Homo sapiens: one gene and its partner. The protein of the gene in region 1 interacts with the protein of each later gene in a biochemical or structural test. Each region holds a gene or a part of one and is shown in the gene's direction. Other genes may lie near its edges.

Region 1 (4,265 bases):
GTGTGGAGGGTGGACTGTGGTCTGGGGAGAGCCTGAAACCTAGAGAAGGTGGAGTCTGGAGGCTGGGGCAGCATTGCATGGGAGAGAAGATGGCGGCAGGAGCCAGGCAGGGGTGGAAGGAGAGGCCAGAGGGGAGTGCTTTCGGGAGGAAGGAGCCAAAGGTGCTTCAGGGCTCATGCAGTGGGCACTCAGCAGAAGAGCAGTCAAGGAGGCCCAGTGGGGACAACCGGGACGTTCATGGGAGTCTCGAACTCAGAGATACAGACTGGGTGGTGTCTGCCTATTATAACTGGTGTCCTGGGAGAGGGCGTCCCCAGGGAAACCCGAGGCCAGGGAAGAGAAGCAGCCCAGGAGGTGACCCCACACGCTCTCAATATTAAGAAGACAGCCCTTAGGGGAGACCAAGAAGGAGCCACCAGGGAGGCAGGAGGGACAGCAGGAGAGTGGCATCAGGGGAGACCGGGGCAGCAAGAAGGAAGGCTCACCAGTGCCTGTGCAGACAAAGACCAGGCTTGAGGGTGGCCATGGACCAAGGGTGGGTTGGCCAGCCTTCAGTGGCCTTCAGCATGAAGAAGAGTGAAAAGATGGGGTCAAGAAGCGTAGACAACCTTTCCTAAGACTTGGCTTGGGAGAAGCCATGGTGAAAGGCCATGTCTGGAGGGGCTTGGGAACATTTTGAGACTGAAAAAAACAGTGAAGAAGGATGCAGAAGGGGATAGATGGAGCAGAGCCTTCGTCTGGCTGACGGCTGGGTCCAGAGAGCATGTGGTATGGCCTTGAACTGAAAGGGCAACTTGTCCCTTGCAAGAGTGAGTCTCTAGGTTGGGGGTGGCTACTGTCTTCATTTACCAGTTCTTTTTTTTTTTTTTCATACTGAGTCTCACTCTGTTACCCAGGCTGGAGTGCAGTGGCATGATCTCAGCTAACTGCAACTTCTGCTTCCCGGGTTCAATGGGTTCAAGTGATTCTCATGCCTCAGCTTGTAGCTGGGACTACAGGTGTGAGCCATCATGCGTGGCTAATTTTCATATTTTTAGTAGAGATGGGGTTTCACCATGTTGGCCAAGCTTGTCTCGAACTCCTTATCTCAGGTGATCCGCCCACCTTGGCCTCCCAAAGTGCTGGGATTATAGGCGTGAGCCACCGTGCCCTGCCTCATTCATCAATTCTTAATCGATGCCTACAGGGTGCCAGGCAATGCCTAGAGCTGGAGATTTAGCAGTCCATCATACTGACTCCTGAGGAGTAGAAGGATGTAGAATAGGCACCTGGCTCTCTTCCTCTCTGGAGGGATTTAACGCTCTTGAGCACCCCTGGCTATGACAATCTCCGGTCAGGTCTGGGAGGTTGTCAGAGATGAAGAAACCACTTCCTCATCTTGCACACAAGGAAGGCCTCACTCACTGCCCAGCAAGTCCTGTGAAGCAATAGCCAGGGGCTAAAGCAAACCCCAGCCCACACCCTGGCAGGCAGCCAGGGATGGGTGGATCAGGAAGGCTCCTGGTTGGGCTTTTGCATCAGGCTCAGGCTGGGCATAAAGGAGGCTCCTGTGGGCTAGAGGGAGGCAGACATGGGGACCATGAAGACCCAAAGGGATGGCCACTCCCTGGGGCGGTGGTCACTGGTGCTCCTGCTGCTGGGCCTGGTGATGCCTCTGGCCATCATTGCCCAGGTCCTCAGCTACAAGGAAGCTGTGCTTCGTGCTATAGATGGCATCAACCAGCGGTCCTCGGATGCTAACCTCTACCGCCTCCTGGACCTGGACCCCAGGCCCACGATGGTGAGCTTTGGGGGACATTCTGCTCTGCTCTGGCTGGGCTTGGCCACGTGTTGTTCCTTCTGCTCCTGCTGCACTGCCTGCCAGGAGGGCATCTCCCCCTTTAAATGTGGTCCCGTGTTTTCCAGGGAACCTTCTAGAGCTCGTGTCTCCTCCCAGCTCGAGAGCTTCCTGCCTTATAATTCCTGCTGTGGCAGAGATACCCTCACCCCGACCCCACGCAGGTTTTGGGACTTCTGCGAGCTCCAGGCACTAGAATGGGGTCATTGGCTCTGGGCAGTGACCTCCTCTGCTTTAAGTCTCTTCTGTACCACGTTACCCCACATAGGGAAGAACTCTATCCAGACTTTAGGTTCCAGTGGGCATGTCTTGTCCCCCAGGAAGCCCCCTGACTTCCCTTGCCCCCACCCCAGAGTGGGAGGGGCTCCTTGTTAGAGCTCATCTGAGGTCTGCTCCTACTCACTGTTCACCTAGGAGGGTAGGAATGGCTCAGTCCTCCTCCCCTCAATGCCCCAGTGCCAAGCCCAGCACCCAGTGCCCGTCGCACATCAGGTACTGTGGAAAGCCTGCCCTCTTGGTGGGGAGGTCATGGACACAAATCAGAAAATACAAGAATGGGCCTCCCCATTTCCTCCTCTGACTAGGATGGGGACCCAGACACGCCAAAGCCTGTGAGCTTCACAGTGAAGGAGACAGTGTGCCCCAGGACGACACAGCAGTCACCAGAGGATTGTGACTTCAAGAAGGACGGGGTGAGGCTGGGGGCTGGGGGTGTTGGTGGGTGCCTCCCAAGGAGCTGAACAGGGGGCACCTGGGGAATATTTCCCACTGGGATGTGGCTGGGAGGTCATGGCAAATGGTTTCAAGTTTGACCTTGAGCTTCTCCTTTCCAGCTGGTGAAGCGGTGTATGGGGACAGTGACCCTCAACCAGGCCAGGGGCTCCTTTGACATCAGTTGTGATAAGGTGAGTGGGCTGTTCTGGGATGCAGGGGCTGATGGGGGCATAGAGTGTGGACCATCCAATGGGTCAATTAACTACTCCCCCAACCCAGGACAGAGAAAGCCCCTCCTACCCAGGGCTCTTCCCCAAACCTGAGTTCCATCTCCAGGGCCGGCTCTGGAATCCCTTAGAGCGGTAGATCTCCAAGTGTAGCCCTTCCTGGGGACTCGTTAGATATGCAAATTCTCAGGCCCTACTCAGACCTACTCAGACAGACTCTGGGTAGGGCCCAGAAATTCGTATTTTGATAAGCTTTCCAGGAGATTCCGGCTTCTGTAAAGTTTGAGAGCCACTGTCTAAGAGTACTCAGCTCTCAGCCCTGTGTTCCCATCTCAGTGTTGCTGGGCTGGGCTGTGTGACCCTGCAGAGCCCCTCACTATCTCCGGGACTCTGTTTTCTCATCTTTTTATTGGGTGTAGGGATTCAATCACATGCTTCAAAGGTCACAGCCAGAGGTTGAACTGGGGCCCCAAAGCTCCTGCGGGGGCCCACGAAGAGGGGCGTCTAGGTGGGGAGGGGTCTTGGATTGACCCTGGGTACATCCCCGACAAGGAACCTGTTTCTTCCTGTACACAACCCCAGGATAACAAGAGATTTGCCCTGCTGGGTGATTTCTTCCGGAAATCTAAAGAGAAGATTGGCAAAGAGTTTAAAAGAATTGTCCAGAGAATCAAGGATTTTTTGCGGAATCTTGTACCCAGGACAGAGTCCTAGTGTGTGCCCTACCCTGGCTCAGGCTTCTGGGCTCTGAGAAATAAACTATGAGAGCAATTTCCTCAGGCTTCAGTCTCACTTGTTTTGCCTCCTCTCTCTCACCACAACTGAGCCCTTAGCTCAGGGAGTCCACGTGTGAGTGTGAGTGTGTGTGAGTGTGACACAGAGGTGGCGAGGGCAGTGTTCCATCCAGGAGGACACAGGGTAAGGCAGTAGGGCCAAGAGATCCAAGATGGCATTCCCATTCTCAGTGGAACCCCCAGTGGGGAATTAAGGAGCTCTACTCTGTGTGTGGTGGTGGGGGAATGCTGTGGAGCTGTTCCTGCTCATGGGGAGGTGACATTCAAGGGAGGGGCCAAGCGTGTTGTTAACACTCAGAGAAGCATGGTCCAGTCCCATGGGTGGCTGGCCAACTGGGTGCGGTCTCCCTGCAGGTACAATTCCCATAAAATTCCAATGCTTCCTAAAAGACTTAACTCAGGAAAGCCCATAACTCCTGGCATTTCCTCTGGCATTGGGACACATCACAGTTTCTTCAGGTGGGTAGCAGATTTAACTTGTGAGCTTGTGTTTAGGGATTGTTAAAAACAAGAATATGGCCAGACGTGGTGGCTCACACCTGTAATGCCAGGACTTTGGGAAGCGAGGCGGGTGGATTGCTTGAGGTCAAGAGTTTGAGACCAGCCTGGGCAACATAACAAACCCTGTCTCTACTAAAAATACAAAAATGAGCTGGGCATGGTGGTGCGTGCCTGTAGTCCCAGCTACTCGGG
Region 2 (3,804 bases), on another chromosome or scaffold:
CACACATTGATGATAAATAAGTTGCAGGCTTGCAGAAATTGACCCATCCAGGTGAACAGCCTAGTGATCCCAGCAAGCGTCCTGCTGTGCAGCTATAAAAACATGACTCCTCCAGCAGCTCCAGGCAGCCACTACCAGTTAATTACAGATGGCCTAGGAGGCCAAACCTGGTTACTATCTCTGGTTTATTATGTGCCAGACACTTATGCTGTATATTTTGTTTAATCCTCTCAACAAACCTGCAAAAGTGGCATTAGTAACCCCTTTAAAGGCAAACGGTCAGAAGCCCAGAGAGGTTAAGTAACCTGAGGTCACACAGGCAGAAAGCAGCAAGACCGGGGTTCACACCCCTGTCTGTTCCGGTCCATGTGTGGTCTCACTCACTCTGCTGCCTCCTTGCCCCTCACCCACCAGGCCAGGATCAAGTCACTGTAGCGATGACTCCACGCTCCGAAGGCTCCAGTGTGAATCTGTCACCTCCATTGGAGCAGTGTGTCCCTGATCGGGGGCAGCAGTACCAGGGGCGCCTGGCGGTGACCACACATGGGCTCCCCTGCCTGGCCTGGGCCAGCGCACAGGCCAAGGCCCTGAGCAAGCACCAGGACTTCAACTCAGCTGTGCAGCTGGTGGAGAACTTCTGCCGCAACCCAGACGGGGATGAGGAGGGCGTGTGGTGCTATGTGGCCGGGAAGCCTGGCGACTTTGGGTACTGCGACCTCAACTATTGTGGTGAGCTGCCTGGGTAGGGGGCCTGAGTTGCAGGGACAAATCCTGGTGGGAATAACAACAGCCGCTTCTGCTTATCGAACGCTTACCTCATTGAGTGCGCTCATTACAGCCTTACAGTAACCAGGTGGGGGGTAAGGTCCTGTGCCCATTTCACAGATAAGTACACTGAGGCCCCAGGAGGTTATTGCCTAGTAGCCCAACTGTGCATGCACGCTTAACCTCTGCACCAAATGGCCTCCAAGGCCCGTAGGGGAATTGGGGGGATCTAGGGGATGGGTGAGGAATGGCCCAGCCCAGTCCCAGCCGGTGCCTGGGTCCCAACAGAGGAGGCCGTGGAGGAGGAGACAGGAGATGGGCTGGATGAGGACTCAGACAGGGCCATCGAAGGGCGTACCGCCACCAGTGAGTACCAGACTTTCTTCAATCCGAGGACCTTTGGCTCGGGAGAGGCAGGTGAGGTAGTGGGCATCCGAGGGGATGCGGGGCTGCGGGGCTGGTGGCCAGGACTTGCCCCTCACTGCTTGGCTTGCTCTGCAGACTGTGGGCTGCGACCTCTGTTCGAGAAGAAGTCGCTGGAGGACAAAACCGAAAGAGAGCTCCTGGAATCCTACATCGACGGGCGCATTGTGGAGGGCTCGGATGCAGAGATCGGCATGTCACCTTGGTGTGTCCTGGAGCCCTGCGCTACCATTCACTCCTGGGGGCAGGTGTGCTGCTGGACCCCCACCCTCAGGCCCTGCCTGCAGGCCTGGGCTTTACAGATGACAACAGCTGAGCATCCAGGATCCCACCAACTCCACACAGCAGCCACATGAGATGGGTTGTTTACTTCTTTTTTTTTGTTTCTTAGATGGAGTCTTGCTCTGTCACCTAGGCTGGAGTGCAGTGCTGCAATCTCGGCTCACTACCTCGATCTCAGCTCACTGCAACTTCTGCCTTCCGGGTTCAAACGATTCTCTTGCCTCAGCCTCCTGAGTAGCTGAATTTACAGACATGCGCCACCACACCCGGCTAATTTTTGTATTTTAAGTAGAGACAGGGTTTCACCATGTTGGCCAGGCTGGTCTTGAACTCCTGACCTCAAGTGATCCACCTGCCTCAGCCTCCCAAAGTGCCGGGATTACAGGCATGAGCCACCACACCCGGCCCATGGGTCCTTTACTTCTAAGCAGATGGTAAAGCTGAGACTGACGGAGCTGGTGGCTCACCTCCGCGCACAGCTAATGGGTTTGAATCCAGTTCTTCTGATTCCAGAGCTGTGCTACGCTATGTGAACTCTGGACTGGAAGGACCTAGTTAGGGGGTGCAAAAAGCAGGAGGCAGGTCAGGTGCAGTGGCTCACCCCTGTAATCCCAGCACTTTGGGAGGCCAAGACAGGAAGATCACTTGAGGGCAGGAGTTCGAGGCCAGCCTGGGCAAAATGGTAAAACCCCGTCTCTACTAAAAATGCAAAAATTAGCCAGGTGTAGCAGCATGTCCCTGTAGTCCCAGCTACTAAGGAGGCTGAGGCGGGAGGATCGCCTGAGCCCAGGAGGCTGAGGCTTCAGTAAGCTGTGACTGTACCATTGCACTCCAGCCTGGGTGACAAGAGTGAGACCCTGTCTCAAAAATAAATAAATAAATAAATAAAAAAGTGTGAGGCAGCCCCTCAGCATCACACGGAGGCTCCAGGCCCCAAAGGCGGCCAGCCCAAGCTTGGATCTGGGCCCCGGAGGCAGCTCTGCCCAGCTGGGTTCTTAGACCTGGGATTGTTACTTCTAGGGCTGGTGTAGAGGCAGCCCCCTCATCCTCAGCTCCTAATGCTTCCTGCTGCCCCTCCCAGGCAGGTGATGCTTTTCCGGAAGAGTCCCCAGGAGCTGCTGTGTGGGGCCAGCCTCATCAGTGACCGCTGGGTCCTCACCGCCGCCCACTGCCTCCTGTACCCGCCCTGGGACAAGAACTTCACCGAGAATGACCTTCTGGTGCGCATTGGCAAGCACTCCCGCACCAGGTACAGAACTGGTGGCCCGTGGGTGTCTGGCAGGGGTCTGAGTCCTCCAAAGCGATCATGAGGGGCCCTGGTGGCTCCGGGACACATAGGATGTTCTGTATACCCCCCAGAATATAACATCCCAGCAGTCTCTGCTGGAAAGCCCATTTGGTCACGTCCTGACTGAGGCTTGGAGCTGCGGGGAGAAATCCGTCTGTCTCCTGGTCCCTCCAACACTAGGATATAGCCCATGTGGGAGTCTCTGAAAATAGAGTCTGTCTGGACTAGGGCGTGCAGCCTGTGCCCCTGTCCCCGTCCTCCAGGCTGTCTGACTCCAAAGCCCTGCACGGCTTTAGGCCCAGGAAGAAACACCCAGGGGGCTGCCATGGCAGGAACCAGCCCTATCCCCTCCCTGGTGGCCTGCAGGACACACTGTCTCCCAGACCCCAAGGGCAGGCAGTTTCCTGCTCCTTGCTGGGTGAACCTGCAGCTTCTCCATTTCTTTCTTGGGGTCTCTGCAGGTACGAGCGAAACATTGAAAAGATATCCATGTTGGAAAAGATCTACATCCACCCCAGGTACAACTGGCGGGAGAACCTGGACCGGGACATTGCCCTGATGAAGCTGAAGAAGCCTGTTGCCTTCAGTGACTACATTCACCCTGTGTGTCTGCCCGACAGGGAGACGGCAGCCAGGTGGGCCACCAGATGCTTGTTAGCTGAGGGGCAGAAGCCAAGTTCTGGGCCTGGCTCTGATACCAAGTAGCCTTGCAAGAGCCCCTTTCCCTTTTCCAGGCCTCGGTTTCTTGGAGTGAACCCAAAAGTTCTTTTCAGTACTGGCGTTTTATTTTTTATTTATATTTATTTATTTACTGACGGAGTTCCACTCTTGTCTCCCAGGCTGGAGTGTAGTTGTGCGATCTTGGCTCACTGCAACCCCACCTCCTGGGTTCAAGCGACTCTCCTGCCTCAGTCTCCTGAGTAGCTGGGATTACAGGCTAATTTTTGTATTTTTAGTAGAGACTGGTGGGTTTCACCGTGTCGGCCAGGTTGGTCTCGAACCCCTGACCTCAAGTGATTCACCCGCCTCGGCCTCCCAAAGTGCCG

Evidence for each region.
Region 2: the proteins of CAMP (region 1) and F2 interact in a test that uses a peptide from one of them, tested with the Homo sapiens proteins (one study listed by BioGRID).

Annotation. Positions count from the first base shown.
Region 1 is NC_000003.12:48,221,933-48,226,197, forward strand, and holds CAMP (cathelicidin antimicrobial peptide preproprotein), read left to right. Parts: upstream 1-1,562; 5' UTR 1,563-1,579; coding exon 1,580-1,780; intron 1,781-2,421; coding exon 2,422-2,529; intron 2,530-2,670; coding exon 2,671-2,742; intron 2,743-3,360; coding exon 3,361-3,492; 3' UTR 3,493-3,553; downstream 3,554-4,265. UniProt on the Homo sapiens protein: Antimicrobial protein that is an integral component of the innate immune system. Binds to bacterial lipopolysaccharides (LPS). Acts via neutrophil N-formyl peptide receptors to enhance the release of CXCL2.
Region 2 is NC_000011.10:46,725,445-46,729,248, forward strand, and holds part of F2 (prothrombin preproprotein), read left to right. Parts: intron 1-414; coding exon 415-729; intron 730-1,053; coding exon 1,054-1,182; intron 1,183-1,266; coding exon 1,267-1,393; intron 1,394-2,551; coding exon 2,552-2,719; intron 2,720-3,219; coding exon 3,220-3,393; intron 3,394-3,804. UniProt on the Homo sapiens protein: Thrombin, which cleaves bonds after Arg and Lys, converts fibrinogen to fibrin and activates factors V, VII, VIII, XIII, and, in complex with thrombomodulin, protein C. Functions in blood homeostasis, inflammation and wound healing.